3 linked regions of the Homo sapiens genome follow. The protein of the gene in region 1 interacts with the protein of each later gene in a pairwise test. Each region holds a gene or a part of one and is shown on either strand. Other genes may lie near its edges.

The links.
Region 2: the proteins of PDPK1 (region 1) and ATXN3 interact in binary tests that used the Homo sapiens proteins (3 or more experiments, as listed by UniProt).
Region 3: the proteins of PDPK1 (region 1) and JPH3 interact in binary tests that used the Homo sapiens proteins (3 or more experiments, as listed by UniProt).

What each region holds. Positions count from the first base shown.
Region 1 is NC_000016.10:2,555,005-2,562,098, forward strand, and holds part of PDPK1 (3-phosphoinositide-dependent protein kinase 1), read left to right. Parts: intron 1-2,698; coding exon 2,699-2,959; intron 2,960-2,975; exon of another isoform or gene 2,976-6,475; coding exon 6,476-6,518; intron 6,519-6,741; exon of another isoform or gene 6,742-6,766; coding exon 6,767-6,904; intron 6,905-7,094. UniProt on the Homo sapiens protein: Serine/threonine kinase which acts as a master kinase, phosphorylating and activating a subgroup of the AGC family of protein kinases.
Region 2 is NC_000014.9:92,096,583-92,103,582, reverse strand, and holds part of ATXN3 (ataxin-3 reference isoform), read left to right. Parts: intron 1-6,744; coding exon 6,745-6,909; intron 6,910-7,000. UniProt on the Homo sapiens protein: Deubiquitinating enzyme involved in protein homeostasis maintenance, transcription, cytoskeleton regulation, myogenesis and degradation of misfolded chaperone substrates.
Region 3 is NC_000016.10:87,682,508-87,689,507, forward strand, and holds part of JPH3 (junctophilin-3), read left to right. Parts: intron 1-1,634; coding exon 1,635-1,759; intron 1,760-7,000. UniProt on the Homo sapiens protein: Junctophilins contribute to the formation of junctional membrane complexes (JMCs) which link the plasma membrane with the endoplasmic or sarcoplasmic reticulum in excitable cells.

The DNA.
Region 1 (7,094 bases):
GACTGCATTCGCTTTACATGATTGAAGCTGCTGGCGTGGAAGCTGTGCCATGTCATGTAAAGCATGCAGTGGGAAAGCAGTGGGGTGGGGGCGTCTTTGTATTACATCATCTGTTGTTGCCGTTTCAAAAATCCAGAGGCCTTTCTACACTTCAGTTGGATGTTGATTTCAAAATGACCGATGTTTCTTTCTGACTCATGAAGGCTGCTGTCTTTGGAATCTGACATTAGAGGGAAGCGAAACTTTACAATGTGTGGGGCAGCCTGGTGTGGTGGCTCAGGTCTGTAATCCAGCACTTTGGGAGGCCAAGGATGGCGGATCACTCGAGCCCTGGAGTTTGAGACCAGCCTGGGCAGCATGATGAGACCCCATCTCTACAAAAATTAGCTGGACACGGTGGTGCACACCTGTGGTCCCACTACTCAGGAGGCTGAGGTGGGAGGATCACTTGAGCCTAGGAGGTCGAGACTGCAGTGAGCTATGATCATGCCACTGAACTCCAGCCTGGGAGACAGAGTGAGACCCCGTCTCAAAACAGAAAAAAAGTCACCAGGCATGGTGGCACATGCCTGTAATTGCATCACTTTGGGAAGCTGAGGCAGGCAGATCACTTGAGTTCAGGAGTTCGAAACCAGCCGGGACAACAAGCAAAACCCCATCTCTATTTTTTCAAAATTTGTGTATATAAAATTTTTGTATGAAAGCTGTGTGGTACATGTTTAGCTGTTTTATGTTTCACTTTCTGGACATGAGTGTGATCCTCCCTGCTCTTGCAGTGCCATCTAAGCTGTCATCAGTTTTCCTGGGCGAGTGATGCATCTCCCCAGCTGGTCTGTCTGAGCCCCTGGCCAGCCAAGGGGCTGCCCTTGACTCTCCCGGCACCCGCCCGTCTCTGCATAGCCACCCCCACCACTTTAACTGGATGGTTTTGTATTGAGGTCAGGCTGGACATCAGCTTTCTATGGGCAGGGACCGTGTCCTCTTATTGGCTGAGTAATTGGGTCCATAGCGTAGGTAAGTCACCTCCTTTAAGAGACTTTGATAAGCAAAATAGTGAATATATTCTTTTTATTTATTTACTTATTATTTTTTATTTTTGAGGCAGGATCTCCCTCTGTCGTCCAGGCTGGAGTGCAGTGATGTGATCTTGGCTCATTGCAGCCTCGACCTCCCCGGGCTTAGGTAATCCTCCTACCTCAGCCTCCCAATTAACTGCGACGACAGGCACATGCCACCGTACCTGGTTAATTTTTATATTTTTAGTAGAGGTGAGGTTTTGCTGTGTTTGCCCAGGCTGGTCTTGAACTCATGGGCTGAAGTGATCCACCCACTTTGGCCTCTGCGCCCGGCCTATTTTTTTTTTTTTTTTTTTTTTTTGAGACGAAATTTCACTCTTGTTGCCTAGGCTGGAGTGCAATGGCATGCTATCAGCTCACTGCAACCTCTGCCTTGCAGGTTGAAGCGATTCTCCTGCCTCAGCCTCCCAAGTAGCTGGCATTACAGGCATGCGCCAACAAGCCCGGCTAGTTTTTTTGTATTTTTAGTAGAGACGGGATTTCTCCATGTGGTCAGGCTGGTCTCGAACTCCTGACCTCAGGTGATCCTCCCGCCTCTGCCTCCCAAAGTGCTGGGATTACAGGCCTGAGCCACTGTGCCCGGCCTAATTTTGTATTTTTAGTAGAGAAGGGGTTTATTCGTGTTGGTCAGGCTGATCTTGAACTCCCGACCGCAGGGGATCCACCCGCCTCATCCACCCAAACTGCTGGGACTACAGGCATGAGCCACCAAGCCCGGCCGTTTTTAGCGTTTAAAAGGATTGCAGCTTGGCTGGTGGCAGTCCCTCTGTCCTGGCACAGACGCAGGGGGAGACCCTGTGTCTTCAGACAGCATGGACTTCAGGACCCTACTGAGAGATGGAATCAAGAGCTCTCCGGGGTTCTTTGAGTGGGGAGTTGTATCGGAAACCACCATCAGCGCGCCTGAGCTCGCCTCGCATTGTTCTTCTGTAGTGCGGGGGGCCACTGCCACCACCGTGAGGACACGTTGGGGTCTGGGGAGGGATTGTTATGGCTGTGGGTGCACCTTGCACGTCTTGCCGACCTAGCTTTGCACGCTGATCTTCCCTCCGTGCCCGCTTACATTGTTAACTGGGTTTCTGCCCTCCCTCCTCTCCTTCGTATTTCTGTGTCTCATTGACAACTGTTCTGTAGTCGCTTTGTTGACAGTTGCCAAACTGCTTTCCAAAAACATTTCCACTGCAATCCCGGTTTTTGGTGCCAGCCGCAGTGGTGTGAGTGCGCTCGCTTTATTATAGTCTTGCCAGCACTGGGCGTCTCTGTGTATTGTAAACACATGCGATCATCACTCTTATCTCTCCATCCCCCCCACAATTAAAGATGTGCCGTGCTATCTCTGCTCAGGTTACCTTGGCCTTGGGATGAGTTGGCTGGAGGCTCAGGCAGCGCGAGGGACAGGAGGAGGGCGAGGCGCTGCCTGGTGGATTAGCGGGGAGCCATGGCACGGGCAGGACTCAGGAGAGGAGGCCGGCAGCTCACAGCAGACCGCGGGGCTCAGCTGGCCTGCCCTGTGCTTGGGGTTTGTTTTTGAGCGTTGAAATGAGGTCCTTAAACCTTAGTCCGTGCATTGAGAGCAAGGCAGCTGCCTTGAGCCTTACTTCCTTTTCCTCTTTGTCGCCTAGTATGACGCCGTGCCCATCCAGTCCAGCGTGGTGTTATGTTCCTGCCCATCCCCATCAATGGTGAGGACCCAGACTGAGTCCAGCACGCCCCCTGGCATTCCTGGTGGCAGCAGGCAGGGCCCCGCCATGGACGGCACTGCAGCCGAGCCTCGGCCCGGCGCCGGCTCCCTGCAGCATGCCCAGCCTCCGCCGCAGCCTCGGAAGAAGCGGCCTGAGGACTTCAAGTTTGGGAAAATCCTTGGGGAAGGCTCTTTTTCCACGGTGAGTATTTGCTGCTGCTGTGTGTCAAACGTACGTGATTTCCTTGGGGAGGCTCACCTTCCTCGGGGCTTGCCGGAGACTCCAAGCAAGGCTGGTGTCCTTCCAGGCAGGAGGTCTCAGGCCCCTTGAGGGGTGTCACCTGTTGTGAAGGCCACTTGAGTCTTTGGGGGCTGGGTACCCCCCAAGCAGATGACGTGATGAGTGTGGCTAAATATTTAACCTGGTTTTGTAGATGAGAACGTTAGACACATCTCTTGATGGTCTGCGGAGGTTTTTTCTGATGTAGTTAATTTCATTTTAACCTGGCATCAGCAAGTTACATTCTGTGTCCTTGTGTCTCACTGGCAGGGCCCTGGGAAGCTGTTCTTTTTCTTAGATTGAAAGTTAGTATCTCTCCAGGGTTTTTGGGGACATTTATTGACCTCTTCTTATTTCTCTGTTTTGTTTTTTTGAATACATAAAACAGTACGCTCTGGACATTTGCTGGAGACACAGCCTCCAGAGTCTTGTGTTCCGAGTTTCACAAACAGGAGTATTGTCGCAGTACTGTCAAGTCACACTTGTTACCTGTCTTCGGGGTGTTTTTTCCTCTGAAAGCAAAGAAATGAAGGTCGAAAGCAGCTGACATGGGACGTTTTGCTGACGTGGGACCCATGAAGCCGTGTGTGGTTGTGGATTTAGTGAAGGTTGTAACAGGTTCAGGGGAGGCCTGAGCAACTCGGGGTGTACTGTCTCCATCTGGGCCTCTAAAGAGACAGAGTCCCGTGCCGCCACTGTGGTCGCCAAGGTGGCCGCCGTGTGCGTGCTAGGGCCATTCCAGGGAGCCCTGGGGGCACCTCACTCTGGAGGGCCTGGGTGAGTTCCTGAATAATTCTTTCTTGCCTGACCTTTGTGAAGAAACCGTAGGTGAGGTTTATTTTCCTTTTTTCTCTTTTTTACACATAGGAAATATTTCACAATGCAAAGAAAAACATGAAATATAGCTTACCCATATTCCCAACATATTGTTTTAATTAATGTTAACTTTTGCTGCCCTTACACTTTAGATTTTTTAAATTGCAGGTTTTATGAAATAATTTTTTTATAAAAGGATTATGCCCTCATGAAAAATGCCTTCAACCATGAGACTAGTCCCCAAAGTTTTGGGGACTCAGATCCTTTCAGAAAGAAGAAACTCTTTGGAAAACCTTGGGCATTCTGCATGGCTGCTTACAACCACCCAGTGAAAGAACAGGCCTCCTCTTTTCTCAGCTTTACCTGTTTTTTGAGACAGAGTCTTGCTCTGTCACCCAGGCTTGAGTGCAGTGGCATGATCATAGCTCACTGCAGCCTCGACTTCCTGGGCTCAAGTGATCCTCTTACCTCAGCCTCCCAAGTAGCTGCAGTTACAGGAATGCACCACCGTGCCCAGCTAATTGTAAAATTTTTTGTAGAGACAGGGTCTCACTTTGTTGCCCAGACTGGTCTTGAACTCCTAGGCTCGAGTGATTCTCTCCTCAGCCTTGCAAAGTGTTGGGATTACAGGCGTGAGCCACTGTGCTTGGCCTCAGTTTTACTTCCTTGTATGTCTCTTTTTAATTTAACTTTATTTTATTATGTATGTATTTATCCTTTTAGAAACAGAGTCTTGCTCTGTCACCTAGGCTGGAGTGCAGCGGTGTGATCATAGCTCACTGCAGCCTTCACCACCTGGGCTTAAGCGATCCTCCTGCCTTAGCCTCCTGAGTAGCTGGGACCACAGGCATGTGCCACCATACATGGCCCTTAACATTTATCTTGACTGAAAAAGGAAGACTCATCTGTGAAATTGCCTGTTTCCCTGGGTTCTGGAGATGGGTGGAGAGCAGGCACTGTCCCTCCAGGGGCTGTGGTCCGTGTCTTTCTGAACCTGCACCAGGGAGGTGCCCGGGAGAGCACGGTGAGCCGGAGGCTCCTCCATGGGGCTGTTTGGAATCCACAGTACTGGGTCTCAGATTACATGTGTTACCCTCAGTTCTTTCTCAGCTTTCCTGAAATGGAGATCACATAAAAGTTGATTTCCAGGGGAGGGGGAAAGGACAGTGATAGGAGGCTGGGCAAGAGCCAGCTGCAGCACCGGAGAGCCGGGAGGCCCCCTGAGGACGGTCACAACCTCCAGGGAGGGACACGTCACGCGCCATTCTCTGGAAGAGGATCCTTCCTTCTTGTAGGAAACCTGCTTGTGAAGTGTTGAGTTTAGACAACGGAAAGATCACATCAGTATCCCCTTAGAAAGGGTTCCACTAAATATCGGTGCTCGTTCACAATTCTTTCTTCCTCTTTTCTACTTATGAAGCTAGCACGTGCTCTTGTGGAGAAACGTGACCTCACAGAAACACATGAGCTAGAGAGGGGAGCCCTGCCCGGCCCACTTCCCCTTTCTCCCTGGCAGCTGAGAGCCATCCATGCGTGGCGTATTCCTCTGGGAAGACCTTGAGTATGTAGAGTCCCCAGAATCCAACTTCATTCTTCTTGAGTGCCACAAGGCGTCTCACATGGTGCTTTCCAGGATCTCTTCTGACGTGTCCCATCAGGAGTCCTGCCCCGATTGCGGCTCACAGCCCGGGGCCAGGTGGACCTGGCCCTGTGGCCTCCTGAAGGTCTTCCTGCCAGCCCCCAGGAATGTCACGGGACAGGTTTCCTCTGCTCCCTGCTCCTCAGGCCGTCCCCCTGTGGGTGTCTTAGGAGACACTTGTGTCCCACTTGGTGGTGGTGGGGCCTCCCTGGCACAGCTGCCTCATGCTCTCTGGCTAAACCGTGGGCCCACCAGGAATCTCCAGTCTGGTGCCTCAGGGTGTGCCCCAGGCTAGTCCGAGTGGAGGGTCTCTCCCCTGTTTGGGATGCCTGCCCTGCTGGAGTGCTCTGTCTCGGAGGTGGGGTTTGAGTGCAGGGCTCAGGGGTGCTGAGAGGACAGGGCAGGAGGCCTGCTGCATCCCGGGCAGGTGGCTCCCTCTTGTGGGCACGCAGGGCCATGCATTGCTGGTTTAGCTCCCTCTGTCCTTTACAGCCAGGCTCTCTTCATGGTGCCCACAAGCAACATCATACAAAATGTATGATAACAGTTATTTCCAAAAACGAAACTTCAGGGCAGCCTTTGCAATGAATGTATACTAGAAGGACATATTGTTGTCACAGAAGCCCCTGTGCCCTGCCACTTGTGGTGGCGCCACTGTCTTCCTTCTGTTGGTGAAGGGCGTGGCAGTCGAAGAGGTTCCTGAGTTTGTACTTGTGTTGCACCGTTAGGGCTGTTAGCAGCTGATCCAGAAGCTTCTGGAAACAACAGAGAGATGGATATGTTTTCTCTTAGCTGTTAGAACACATCAACACGAGCATTGGCTTTTAGCTCTACTTGTCAGTACAAGACCCAAAATATTTCACTGTAGACTCAAGCCTTCAGTGGGGACAGGAAGCGTGCGTGTGGGGCAGAGGGACTCGTCAGGCCCAGTGTCCTGGTTATTACATTGTGTGTTTCTTTTTCTCCTTTTCTTTCCCAACCAGGTTGTCCTGGCTCGAGAACTGGCAACCTCCAGAGAATATGCGAGTGAGTATGGGCTGCAGGGAGCTGTGCGTCCGGGAGCAGGGCAAGCGGCTCCGTGCAGGGCGGCTGGGGTGGCAGGGCCGGTGTTTCTGTGCTGATTTCAGGGTACAGGACACTGTTGGCTTTAGAGACCACCAGGCTGTTGTGTACAATGTTTGAAAGACTTTAATTTGTACCAGTTACCTTTGTGAGTCATGTCTTTAGTGTTTTTTGTTGTTTCTGATAGTAACTCACTTCTCTCTCACCTGAAGTTAAAATTCTGGAGAAGCGACATATCATAAAAGAGAACAAGGTCCCCTATGTAACCAGAGAGCGGGATGTCATGTCGCGCCTGGATCACCCCTTCTTTGTTAAGCTTTACTTCACATTTCAGGACGACGAGAAGCTGTGTATCCTTTGCGTGGTTGGTGCCGTCTGAAGCCACACCAGTCACCCCTCTCACTTGGAATCAGACCCTGTGTGTTCCCACAAGCAGCCCCCGCTCCCTGCCGAGTGGGGTCCCTCAGGCCGCTGACATTCAGGGAGGCAGCCGAGGCAGCGCCAGGGTGTGGCTGGGAGTCTGCACAGGACGTTACCTCC
Region 2 (7,000 bases), on another chromosome or scaffold:
GTTAGCACATGCCTGTAGACTTGGGAGGCTGAGGTGGGAGGATTGCATGAGTCTGGGAGGTCGAGGCTGTAGTGAGCCATGATCGCACCACTGCACTCCAGCCTAGGGGACAGAGCAAGATCCTGTCTCAAAAGAAAAAAATGTATATATTTGAATGGATAAAGAGATGGCTTTGAGTTTCTGAGATATATATGGTGCTGTTTATCTAAAGTAAACAAGTTTTCTGTAAATATTTTAAGGCTTTGCAGGCCAGCTGTAGTCTCTGTCACACATTCTTATTTGTGCATGTTTTTCCCAACCATGTAAAAATGTAAAGTGCATTCTTAGCTACTGGGGCAGGTTGAATTTGGCCCATGGGCTAGAGTTTGCCAACCCCTAACTTAAACCTTTGTACTAACTTTATGACCACTACTGGATTTTTGTTGTTGTTTGTTTTAGTTCTGGTGCCTGCTTTGTTTTTTTTTTTTTTTTTAATCCTCTTGCTGATGTTTCTTGGTGCAGTTACTGTGCCATTTGTATTGGTGCTTTTAATGTAATGCAAACTGGTAATAATATCTAAACTTGCTGGGGTTGTACATAAAATTATTGAAAAGATTGAAAAGATGCTGAGCATTGACTCTGTGGCATTCATTATGCCCTTTTGTGATTGCTGGATTTTAGCCATCTTTAGGACATTTGAGCTTTAGGAGAAGCCAAATTCTGTATAAATGACTTGAAGTGCTAATAGCACAGGTTTTGAAACCTCTGCCTGGGTTTGAGTCTCAGCTCTGCCTTTTACTACCTGTGTGATCCTGAGCAAGTTACTTAGTATCCCTGTCCTCTAGTTTCCTCCTCTGTAGTGTGGGGATAATAACATAGACATAACCTGAGAGTTAGAGTGTAGAGAAGGCTCCCTGGCAGATAGTGCTGTAGAAGTACTGGCCATTGCCATTACTCAGGTGCTTGTGTTTGCTGAACCTCATAGTAAGGGCTCGGAGAGCACTAAGAGGAGGTGAGAAATGCTGCTAGATTGACAGCTTGTCCCCAGATAGCCCATTCCCGAGAGCACCTTAGGTTTATACCTGATTTGTGTTGTAGTTAGTAGTGTCTCTGGTAATTTGAACTAGTTTCAGGTTGGTCTTGAAAACCTGGGGAGGTTGGGGGTAAATGATTTGGTAGCAGTTCTCTTTTGTGATTTTATACATTATCTTTGTAGAACTGCAGTTTGCTAATTCTCTGAGCCCAACACAATGAAGTCTGGGCCTAAAATCATAGAATTTCTTTTATTTTTTTTTTTGTTTTTAATTTATTTATTCCCTCCCTCCCTCCTTTCTTCCTTTCTTCCTTTTCTTTCTTTCTTTCCTTCCTTCCTTCCTTCTTTCTTTTCTTTCTTTCTTTTCTTTCTTTGGAGTCTCACTCTGTCACCAGGCTGGAGTGCAGTGGCACGAACTTTCTTCAGAGTCTCACTTTGTCACCAGGCTGGAGTGCAGTGGCGCGAACTCAGCTCACTGCAACCTCCGTCTCCTGAGTTCAAGAGATTCTCCTGCCTCAGCCTCCCGAGTAGCTGGGACTATAGGCATGTGCCACCATGCCCAGCTAATTTTCTTATTTTTAGTAGAGACGAGGTTTCACCATGTTGGCCAGGATGGTCTTGATCTCTTGACCTCGTGATCCACCTGCCTCAGCCTCCCAAAGTGCGGGGATTACAGGCGTGAGCTACCACGCCCAGCCTATTTTTTATTTTTTGAGGCAGAGTCTCACTCTGTCACCCAGGCTGGAGTGCAGTGGTGCAATCTCAGCTCACTGCAACCTCCGCCTCCTGGGTTCAGGTGATTCTCCTGCCTTAGCCTCCTGAGCACCTGGGACTACAGGCGCCTGCCACCACACCTGGCTAATTCTTATATTTTTAGTAGAGGCGGGGTTTCACCATGTTGGCCAGGCTGGTCTCGAACTCCTGATCTCAAGTGATCAACCTGCCTTGGCCTCCCAAAGTGCTGGAATTACAGCCATGAGCCACCATGCCCAGCCAAATCATGAGATTTCAATACCGCTGAACTTTGATTATGGCAAAGTGAACTTCTGCTTTGATTAAAGCTTGATGAGAGAGGTGGCTGGGGATAGTTTGAGATAAGGGCAAGGCAGGAAAATGCATAATCTTACGTGGGCTCATTGTCATTGTACAATTCTTTTGGTCCATGTGGAATTTGATCCGTCCTATGACTTAAGTTATGTTTATTTTTGTTTTTATTTTTATTTATTTTGTGTCTTTTTGAGAGACATGATGTTGCTCTGTCACCTGGGCCAGAATACAGTGGCACAATCTTAGCTCCGTGTAGCCTTGAACTCCTGGGCTCAAGTGATCCTCCCACCTCAGCCCCTCAAACAGTTGAGATTATAGTATGAACCACTGTGCCTAGCCTTAAGTGATTTTTAAATTTGTACTGAACAGTTTGTCCTTTCCTTCCATTAAATCATATTAGAAGTACAGAACTTGATATTTCCTGTAGCAATACAGTTTTTCTTTGATGAAGTTTGATTTCAAGTACTTATTTTTCATAATTTAAAGCTATTTTTTATAGAGAGAATTTTAATCAAATATTTGGATGTCACTATTGCTATATATGGTATTAAGTATGGTGACCATAGTTTGTAAACTCCAAACTGACAGCAAGACAGGAAATTTGTGTTAGCAAAGGCTTTTTTCTTACTGTTTGAATTTTTTAAAAATTAGATACAATACAGAGAGGAGCACACAAATCATTAAGAGTACAGCTCAGCGAATTTTCACACAGTGAACATGTGTAAACAGCAAGTAACAAAAGATTTACCTGCATCCTATAACCTCCCATTATTCCCTTTTCTAGGTACTGTCTCTCCACTGCATTCCCACCAAATATAACCACTATGCTGAATTCTGACATCATAAATGAGTTTTGCCTGATTTTGAGCTTTTGTGACTGGAAGTGTACAGTGTATATACCCTTTCGATTCTGTCCTCTTTAGTTTACCATTGTTTGAGAAATTTATCCATACTGTTCCAGAATTAACTACTGTTAATTATTGTTAATTAACTACTGTTGTAGTTAATTCATCCTCATTGTTATCTAGTATTCTTTTGTGAGTAAACACAATTTCCATTCTACTGTGATCCCAGCTATCCATTTGGGTCGTTTCCAGTTTGGGGTCCATTACAAATAGTAATGCTATCTGTAATGCTATTTTGTATTACTACAAATAGTAATGCTATTTGTGGCACAAAAATACTGCTTTTGTGAACATTCTTATACATGTCTTTTGATGAATGTATGTTTGCATTGCTGTTGTTTACATTATGTACCTAGTAATGGAATTGCTAGATCATAGGAGATGTATATATTAAGCTTTAGTGGATGCATTACATAATTATTAGTTATTATTGGTTATACCAATTTATCCTCTCATCAGTAGTATACAACAGTTTCTGTATCTCTAATCTCCAACATTTTAGCCATTTTAGAGTTTGTGTACTAACACATTGTGGTTTTAATTTACATTTCCCTGATGACTAATAAAGTTGAGTACCTCTTTTGTGTTCTTTATAGCCATTTGACTGTCTTGTGAAGTGCTTGTTTGTCTTGCCTATTTTTCTTTTCTTTCTTTCTTTTTCTTCCTTCCTTCCTTTCTTTCTTTCTTCTTTCTTTCCTTCCTTCTTTTCTTTCTTTCTGTCTTTCTTTCTTGTCTTTCTTGTCTTTCTGTCTTTCTTGGTCTTGCCCTGTCACCCATGCTGGAGTGCAGTGGTGCAGTCTCAGCTTACTGTAGCCTCGACCTTTTTGGGGCTCAAGTTATCCTCCTTTCTCAGCCTCCCAAGAAGCTGGACTACAAGCACGCACCACCATGCTCAGTTAATTTTTTATTTTTTGTAGAAATGGGGTTTCACCATGTTGTCCAGGCTGGTCTCAAACTTCTGGGCTCAAGTAATCCTCCTGCCTTGGCCTCCCAAAATGCTGGGATTACAGGCATGAGCCACCGCAGCCAGCCTTGGCTATTTTTCAAAAGGATATAAGTAGAACATCTGTATATCCCTTCAATTTGCATATTATTCAGTAAGAGTTGCACTCTGGTAGTAGAAATATATAAGGAGGAGAAAGAAGTGGAAACAAAAAGTCTATTCTCATGAGAAGACTTGGGGGATAGTGTTCTCTCTAGCTCCAAGCTACTTATTCCTTACGAAAAGTTGAAGATAAACTTATCTCAGACTGAGGCTGTCTCAATGTTGTCTTCCTATTCCATTATACACATATAACCCATATTTTTTTCACCAGCTGAATTTTGCTCCTAGAAAATTGATTCATCAGGAAAAATATCCGTCTTGCAAGGTGGTTCTCTTTAGAGTCTGCTGTGTGACATAGCTCAGGACAAATTGTGTGATGTCAGATAGGTTGGGTTAAGGAATAGACCTTATTGGGGAAAGAGAGAACTTGGAGGGCCAAGGTTAGCAGGAGAAGGAAATGTTCTCTCATCTGCCGTCAATTCAGGGAGGGGCAAACCTGGTGTCTGTGTTCACAGGGAGGGATCCATCCATCTGTGATTCTCCCTTCTTATCAGGTAGCATGGGAAAGCTACACTGTTGCGGGGAGGAGGGTCACACGCAGGCTACTTAGTACCAGGCACCCTGGACTTGGATTCAGGTTGCCAGTTGTGTGAGAAACTGCCCAGCACCTGAAGGCCCTGAACCCATGAGAAGTTGTACCTACCTCCCATGAGGAGGAATCCTGTCATCCCATGGGAGCTGAGCTTGGGTGCAGTCCCTCTTGCTGGCTTGTCCAGGAGTGAGCTCCAGGGTTGTTTGGGACAGTTCTGCTCATTGCTTTACACTGTGTATACATTATCTGTAGAGTTCCATGAAGAGAACTTCAGCACTGTAACTGCAAGTTTTAACATGGAACAGAATTTTTCTCACCTGTATTAATTCTTAAGATTTGAAGTTCTATCAACAAGCATTTAGATTGTGTGGAGATTTTTTTATTTTTATTTTTGGAGACAGAGTCTTGCTCTGTTACCCAGACTGGAGTGGCAGTGGCATGGTCTTGGCTCACTGCAGGCTCTACTTCCTGGGTTCAAGCGATTCTCATGCCTCAGTGTCCTGATTAGCTAGGACTACAGGTACACACCACCATGCTGGCTAATTTTTGTATTTTTAGTAGAGACGAGGTTTCACCGTATTGGTCAGGCTGGTCTCGAACTCCCAGCCTCAAGCAGTCCACCCACCTCGGCCTCCCAAACTGCTGGGATTACAGGTGTGAGCCACCATGCTTGACTGACATCATCATGTTAAAAGAATAAATGTTCTAGGGAGCTGGGCACAGTGTCATGTTTCTGTAGTTCTAGCTGCTCGGGAGGCTGAGGCAGGAAGATCCCTTGAGCCCTGGAGTTCAAGTCCAGCCTGGGCAACATAGTGAGATCTCTTTTTTTAAATAAATAAATAACTGTTCTAGGGACTAAAATTTCCTTTCACCATTAGTAATTTACTGTAGAATCTCCAAGAATGAACTTATTTTAGGTACTGAAAATGAGGGAGACTAAATGTTTTATACAGTAGTTTTTAGTAAAATATGAGATTTGATGCATTTGATAGATGATGTTTGTTTAAAATAATTCTTAAATTTTTGATCATGTAATTATAGTTTCATTAATGGTAGATTTGTAAAATAAATGTTACCAAATGAAAATGCATGTACCTATGTTAATTATCCTTATCTAAAGCTGAAAGTTCAGTTCAACTATGTTAAAACATAGTAGGGGCCTGGCAGGGTGGCTCTTGCCTGTAATCCCAGAACTTAGGGAGGCCAAGGTGGGCAGATCACGAGGTCAGGAGATCGAGACCATCCTGGCTAACATTGTGAAACCGTATCGCTACTAAAAATACAAAAAATTAGCCGGGCATGGCGGTGGGCACCTGTAGTCGCAGCTACTTGGTAGGCTGAGGCAGGAGAATGGCGTGAACTCAGGAGGCAGAGCTTACAGTGAGCCGAGATCATGCCACTGCACTCCAGGCTGGGTGACAGAGCAAGACTCCATCTCAAAAAAAAAAAAAAAGTTGGCCAGGTGTGGCGGCTCACACCTGTAATCCCAGCACTTTTGGAGGCCGAGGCAGGCGGATCACAAGATCAGGAGTTTGAGACCAGCCTGGCTAACAGAGTGAAACCCTGTATATACTAAAAATACAAAAATTAGCCAGGCATGGTGGTGCATGCCTGTAGTCCCAGCTACTTGAGAGGCTGAGGCAGGAGAATCACTTGAACCCGGGAGGCGGAGGTTGTGGTAAGCTGAGATTGCTCCACTGCACTCCAGCCTGGACAACAGAGCAAGACTCTGTCTCAAAAAAAAAAAAAATTAATGATTAAATTATTTAGGGGAGCCGGGCGCAGTGGCTCACGCCTGTAATCCCAGCACTTTGGGAGGCCAAGGCGGGCGGATCACGAGGTCAGGAGATCAAGACCATCCTGGCTAACACAGGATGAAACCCCGTCTCTACTAAAAATACAAAAATTTAGCCGGGCGTGGTGGCGGGTGCCTGTAGTACCAGCTACTCGGGAGGCTGAGGCAGGAGAATGGCATGAACCCGGGTGGCGGAGCTTGCAGTGAGCCAAGATAGCGCCACTGCACTCCGGCCTGGGTGAAAGAGTGAGACTCCGTCTCAAAAAAAAAAAAAAATTATTTAGGGGAAGATACTATACAATTCTGTTTAACAAGTCACATTTTAATTTTTTCTTTTGGAAATATTAGCAAGAAGGCTCACTTTGTGCTCAACATTGCCTGAATAACTTATTGCAAGGAGAATATTTTAGCCCTGTGGAATTATCCTCAATTGCACATCAGCTGGATGAGGAGGAGAGGATGAGAATGGCAGAAGGAGGAGTTACTAGTGAAGATTATCGCACGTTTTTACAGGTACTGATTTTAAACTCACTAAGTCACATTTCTTTTTTTTTTTTTTTTTTGAGACGGAGTCTCGCCCTGTTGCCCATGCTGGAGTGCAATG
Region 3 (7,000 bases), about 85 Mb from region 1:
AGAGAGCACCCTCGCTTCTTCTACCATGTGAGCACCCAGCAGGAAGGTGCTGTCCAGGACCCAGAAAGTGGGTCCTCTGCAGACACCAAATCTGCTGGCACCTTGATCTTGGACTTCCAGCCTCCGGAACTGGGGGAAAGCAATGTCTGCTATTGATGAGCCGCCCAAGCTGCGGTGCTTTGTTGCAGCCCCAACAGGCTAAGTCAGGAACCGTGAACAGGAGACCTCCCAGGGAGTCTGCTCGGAGGGGGGATTTGTCGTGGGGGAATTGGTCATTGTGCCTCAGTTTCCCCATTGTTGGGGAAGTGGTGCCCATGGCCACTGGCAGGCCCCCCCGGGGGCCAGCACACCAGGTAGGAAGAAATGCAAGCCCCAGGCTGCTGAGATGCACAGAGCCCCACATTCTGCCTTCGGGACGTCTGTCTAGTCCCTTGTCTTACAAAGGGTGGGCAGGTCCCCTGCAGGACTCAGCAGAGGGAGAGACACAGTCAGGGAGCGGCCAGAGGGGTGACGTGCCCGGCTGCCCACAGGTACAATGGCTCCTTCGTGTCACACATGGGTGTCGGCGTCATCTTTCGGCTGGGTGAGGGAACTGCCCAGCTGCCCAAGCCCTGGGTTCCCAAGTCAGAGTTGCTGGGATTACTGGGCAGGGAGGTGGTCCCGCAACCCACACCGGGGCAGTGGCAGGAAGCACAGACACACACAGCACAGCGGGCCGGCACCGCCGGGGTGGGTTGTCTGGGCTTGGACTCTTTCTGTGCACATGCTGATGTTTGTTGATAATAAGAACAGAAACATTTTCTTTTTTTTTTTTTGAGATGGAGTCTTGCTCTGTCACCCAGGCTGGAGTGCAATGGCGTGATCTCCGCTCACTGCAACTTCCGCCTCCCAGGTTCAAGCAATTCTCCTTCCTCAGCCTCCTGAGTAGCTGGGATTACAGGCACGTGCCACAACACCCGGCTAATTTTTGTAATTTTTAGTAGAGACGGAGTTTCACCATGTTGTGCAGGCTGGTCTTGAACTCCTGACCTCATGATCTGCCCGCCTCAGCCTCCCAAAGTGCTGGGATTACAGGCGTGAGCCACTGTGCCCAGCCCCTCCCCTTTTTTTTTTCCTTGAGACAGAGTCTTGCTCTATTACCCAAGCTGGAGTGCAGTGACGCGATCTCAGCTCACTGCAACCTCCACCTCCCAGATTCAAGCAATCCTCCTGCCTCAGTGTCCCGAGTAGCTGGGACCACAGATGCGTGCCATCACACCCAGCTAATTTTGTATTTTTGGCAGAGACAGGCTTTTGCCATGTTGCCCAGGCTGGTCGTGAACGCCTGAGCTCAAGCGATCTTCCTGCCTTGGCCTCCCAAAGTGCTGGGATTACAGGCGTGAGCCACCATGCCCTGCCCAGAGGTGTTTTCAAGCATGTCCTGTGCACTGGGCCTGGTTGGTTGATGCTCAGTGATGTTTATTGAATGAATGAATGAATGAACGAACAAGATCCAGAAGTCTGAGGGTAAACATGGGGTGCCAGCATCTTGTCTTAGCCCAGCCCGTTGTTGGGGGGTTGGCAGAGTACCTCAACCCAGACCCCTGTCACCTGTGCCCCCTGCCCCCCCTCACGCTCCTCCCTGTCTCCCCCAGGACCTCCCACTCTCGGGCAAAGGCCGAGGCAGCCCTCACAGCAGCTCAGAAAGCCCAGGAGGAGGCGCGGATCGCCAGGATCACTGCCAAAGAGTTCTCCCCTTCCTTCCAGCACCGGGAAAACGGTGAGTCTCGCCGGGCCTGATACTGGCATCGTGGGGAGGGGGTGCGTGGATGGCTGGGCAGTCCTGGCAGCAGATGTGTCCTCCAGAGCGGGTAGGCTTAGATGGGCTCAGCCCCAGCTGCTCCCCTGCCCGGTGTCTTCCTCTCCCGCCGAAGGTGCTTGTTTGTGCCAAGGCCTGGCCTGGCTCCCCGGGACACAGGACATGTGTCTTGGCAGGTCTCTCCCATTCCCACAGTCCTTGGGGCACCGCGTGTTGCTTGCCGGCTGTCCCTGACGGTGAATTCCCACCTGCCCAGCCTGTGCTGTCTGCTGCCCGCCCTCCCCCAGTGTTGTTCTAGAACCTTCTGGGATGATGGAACTATCTGCTGGGTCCAGCGTGGCAGCCATTAGCTGGGTGTGTCTGCGGTCCTGGCTCTTGACCTGCCTCTGATGTGAACTAACTTACCATTAAACACACCCAGTGGCTGCTGGGTTGGACAGCGTCACAAATGGCAGCTCCCGCTGTGCCCCTCGGAAAGAGCTGGAAGCTGCTGCCTGATTTAGGAACCTCGTCCTCCCTTCGAGGGGGGGATCATGGGTGATACGGCCCAGTGACAGTGGCGGGGGCGTGGAGGGTGTGGGGTGGGTGGCGGAGAGGCCGTGGCCAGCTGCCTCCCATCTCCTACCTCATCTTGGAGGAAGCTTCCTCTGCACCAGGAGGCCCCAGAGAATGGGGTTAGGAGCGCGCCCCCTCAACCCGAGCTCTGACCGGTGAGCGGTATTCGGATGAGGCTCTGCGCGCTGGAGGTCCGCACCTGACACCACAGCCCTGAACTTGCTCGCAACGCCTGCCACTCTGGCCACCAGGACAGGATGAGGAGCCCAGCCTGGGGGCTGCGGGGCTGGGCGCTCCCCTGACTGGAACGCGAGACCACATCATCTCTAGAGGTGACCGTCCGCCACCACTCCAAGACCTTGCCTTCACTGGGCGAGTGCCGGGCCCTGCAGAGCCTGCAGCTGCAGCCTGGAGGTCAGGAGGACGAGCCCCCGCACCCCCACCGCCTTGGGCAGCTTCTATTCCACTGCGTCCCCTCCACTCTCCTGGCCCCTCCAGACACACGCACCCCAAAGTGTCCAAGTGGGAGGGCAATGGGCCACGTGCCCCTGTGGCCATTGGCATCCTCCATGGTCTCGCCCTCAGGCCCTGAGTTTCCTTCTCCCTGGGGCCCCTCCTTGCCTCGCCCACGACCAGCTGCCTGGGCTGGGAGGCGGTGGGGCGCACACTTGGGGGCACACGTGTAGCGTGCACGTGCATGTGGGGAGTGGGTGCAGTGCTGCGGGATGGACGAACGGAACAGGGATGCTGGAGAGGAAGCCAGTGCCGTCGGGGGCACCTGCCAGAACCCTGGCTGGGCCACTCCACGCAGAATGCACGTAGGACGGCATGGGATTCCACGTACCAACCCTGGCCCATGGTCGCCTCAGCTCCAGCCCTGCCTGCGACTCACATTCCACTGCCTGCGGCCTGTTTTGTTTCCTCTCAGAGCCTCAGTTCCATGTGTGAAAGGAAGGGGACCAGACAGGGAACATTGAAGCCTCCATCCTGTGCCAAATCCCCCAAGAGACGCATCCACCGGAAGCTCCCAACGTGACTTATTTGGGAGGAGGGTCTGTGCAGGTGTCATTATGGAACAGACTTTGAGACAAGATCAGCCTGGATTGGGGTGAGTCCTAGATCCACGCGGCGTCCTTAGAAGAGACAGAAGAGGAGGAGACAGGGGCGGATGGAGTGATGTCAGAGATCACTGGAGACTCCGTGGCTGGAGGGTGGCTGGAGCGGAGACCCTGGAAGGAAGCAGCACTCCCGACACCTGGATCACGGCTTCTAACTTCCAGAAACACGAGTTTGCCTTTTGGGTGTTTCTACCCCCACCCCCGCGTGGTGCTTTACTGCTCCAGTCCCAAGAAATGGGTGCAGGCTCCCCCACCCTGAGAATTCCAGTTAAGACTCTGGAGTCGGAGATGCTTCCTGGAGGGCTCAGTCCTGGAGTCAGAGGAGATGCTTCCTGGAGGGCTCAGTCCTGGAGTCAGAGATACTTCCTGGAGGGCTCAGTTCTGGATTCAGAGGAGATGCTTCCCAGAGGGCTCAGTCCTGGAGTCAGAGATGCTTCCTGGAGGGCTCAGTTCTGGATTCAGAGGAGATGCTTCCCAGAGGGCTCAGTCCTGGAGTCAGAGATGCTTCCTGGAGGGCTCAATCCTGGAGTCAGAGATGTTTCCCGGAGGGCTCAGTCCTGGAGTCAGAGATGCTTCCTCGAGGGCTCAGTCCTGGAGTCAGAGATGCTTCCTGGAGGGCTCAGTCCTGGACTTGGAGATACTTCCTGGAGGGCTCAGTCCTGGATTCAGAGGAGATGCTTCCCAGAGGGCTCAGTCCTGGAGTCAGAGATGCTTCCTGGAGGGCTCAGTCCTGGATTCAGAGGAGATGCTTCCTGGAGGGCTCAGGTCCCTGCAGGAGGGGCCTTGGGCTGACCTTTTAAGTCCTGAAGCTGCCTCCTCCGACAGTTCTTGTCTTCATGATACAGATGCGGGCCCCTGTGGGGGCCGCTGTGATGGAGAGACGGGGCCGCTGCTGCCTCACTGGTGGGAGTCCAGTCCTCGAGGGTCTGGCCAAGTTGGCCTCACCTCCTGCTGCTGCACCTTGGAGCCTGGCTCACTCTGAGCACCTCGGTCCGATCTGCCACCTCTTTGGGTGGCGCCCCGGAGCCTTCTCTGAGCAGCATCTTCCCTGGAGGGGGCGTTGGGACCGTGTGTTTTTTACAAGCGCTGGGACTGGCATGAGATTTGATCCAAGCATTTCTTGTTTCCGCCTTGGATGCATTCAGGATCAGTGTTCCCAGACCAGGCACCCCGGGGCCTTCTCGGCTGCTGGGGAGGGGTGGGGCTGGGGGAAGCTGTCCAGGTCCTTCCTCAGTCGTCCTCACAGCCAGGAGCTGAGGTCACCAATGACAGATGACAGAACAGAGCCTCCAAGAGGGGAACAGGGTTGCCAGAGCGCTCAGGCAGGATGTGGTGGAATCAGGATTTAAAACGAGGCTCTGAAGCCTGGGCCATGCCGGCTTCTAGAGAAGCAAACCATCCAGCGCTTCGGCTGCAGAGAGTGGCTGGCGCCAGCCTCTTGCTGCCTGTCTGGGAGGTCCCTGGCAGCCTCCCAGCCCGAGAACTCTGACCGTCAGGGTTCTGCCCAAGGCCACGTGAAGGCAGGACCATGAAGGAGCCTGGCCATGCGGTGTCCAGTGCCCAGGCCACTTCCGGTGCCATCCGCCCCCGCCCCAGAGGCAGGAGGACTGAGCGTCGGAGGCTGCAGGACGCAGGTGGCTTGAAGGCACAGGAAGAAGCTGCAGGGGCTTCACGAGGACCCGCCCTGCATCCTCACCACGAGGCTTCTAGGAACGTTACCTGCTCAGCAGCTCATTCTAGCTGAGGGTGCCCTCCTGCTGGTGGTGCTGGGAGTCGGGGCCCCTCTAGCGTGGGGTCTCCTGGGCCAGCCAGGCCTGATCTCGGCAGCAGTGGGTGGACGACCTGGTGGGAAAGGCCGGGGCGCCATCGGGGGATGGGGGGGGCCTTGATCCCAGCCTGCTAGGTCCATAGCGTCTAAGGCACAGGAATGCCAGCCCCTTGGAAGTCCCATCCTGGCCAAGGAGGAGGTACGATGTGGGTGATCCGTGGGCATGATTGGGGGCCTCTGATGGGGCCAGGGCTGCCCTCCACACAGGACCCTCACGGGGAGAGAGGTGGTGGGGCTGGGCGTCAGGTGGGTACGTGGATGTCAGCACAGTTCTACACAGACCTTCTCTGGCCCATTCCCTGCTCTGCTCGGGGGACACCCAACCAGCCCAGCCCTGTTTCTGGGGAGTGACCACAGAGAAGCAGTCATTGAGACCTCAGAGTGGCCCACCCACACCCCCGTGTGACAGGAACTCAGACTTGGGAGGGCTGGCCACCCACCCAGAGCTACCCAGCTGTGCCCCAAGCCCCAGGCCAGGGCCATGGCCTCGCTCTGCTCAGCACTGCCTCTTAGACCAGCAAGGAGGAGGACACAGCAGCCCAGCCTGGTGGCGTCGCAGCGTGCCCCGAATCTGCTTGCTAACGTCTCTTTACAAACGGAGGGACTATCTGGTGCCACACCGAGGGTAGCCATGTCTCCCAGACCTTCTCCTGCCAAAAGGTCAGACTGGGGTACAGGCGTCTCCCAGACCTTCTCCTGCCAAAAGGTCAGACTGGGGTACAGGCCAGGAGAATGTCCGAGCGTGAGAGACTCTAAGATGGGCAGTGGCTCTTGGTGTCCGAGCTGGTCTCATGAGGTGGCCGCCCCGGGTAGAGCTCTGAGACCTCCGTCCTCAGAGGGAAGACTCCCCAAATTCCCACAGAGCTCTGCACCATTTTGGCTCGGGCAGGACGGGGATGCTGGGGGCGGGGGTCCCACTGTTCTGTGCTGAGCCTAGGACGCTACTTGAGATGAACGTGTAACTGTTCCCCGGAGGGTAAGAAGCGCCGCGTTCTTGGGTTTCTCCTAATGGAATAAAGTCGGGCATGGCTCCCGTGTCCCTGCGTTGGCAGGAAATGAGATCCCAGTCAATGTTCTTGGTTCTCACCTCCTGCTGGGGGCTCACGGAGCTCCGGAGAAGTCTCGGGGCTAGTCCTACAATGCTGCCCCTCCCTATCCAGGCCTCCGGGTGGGGGCTGATGGGGACTGAGCCACCGGCAGACGACAGGGACTCTGCTGGCTGCAGAGCTGGCCCCTGGGTCCTGTGGTGACCTCCCCTTCCGGGGAGCCCCGCCCTAGGACTTGAAGCCCCAGCAGCCTCGAAAGGTGGGGAGGGAAGTCGGCTCCTGGGCTCTCACGCTGGCCCCGGCACTGGCTGTTTCTCAGCAAGACTGTCCCAGCACCCTGAGACACAGTCCCAGGCGGGTAGGGGTGTTGGCGGCCTTGCTGTGACAGCTCGGCCTCCCCAGACAGGTGGTCAGCTAGGGTGAGGGGCTTCCTCTTACCCTCAGGACAGGCGAGTCAGGGTTGGTGGGACCTGAGTCCACACCCCAGCGTCCTCACGCACTTTCCGAGCCTTGGGTCTCCCTTGTAGCCTGGGAGCTGCTGTCCGCCCTTCCTGTGGTGCCTGGGCCTAGCCAGTCTCCCTCCAAGTGTCTGTGGGGTGGGGACCACGGGGGTCCCACAGAGGGCTTTGGGAGCCACGGTCCCCACTCCCCTCCC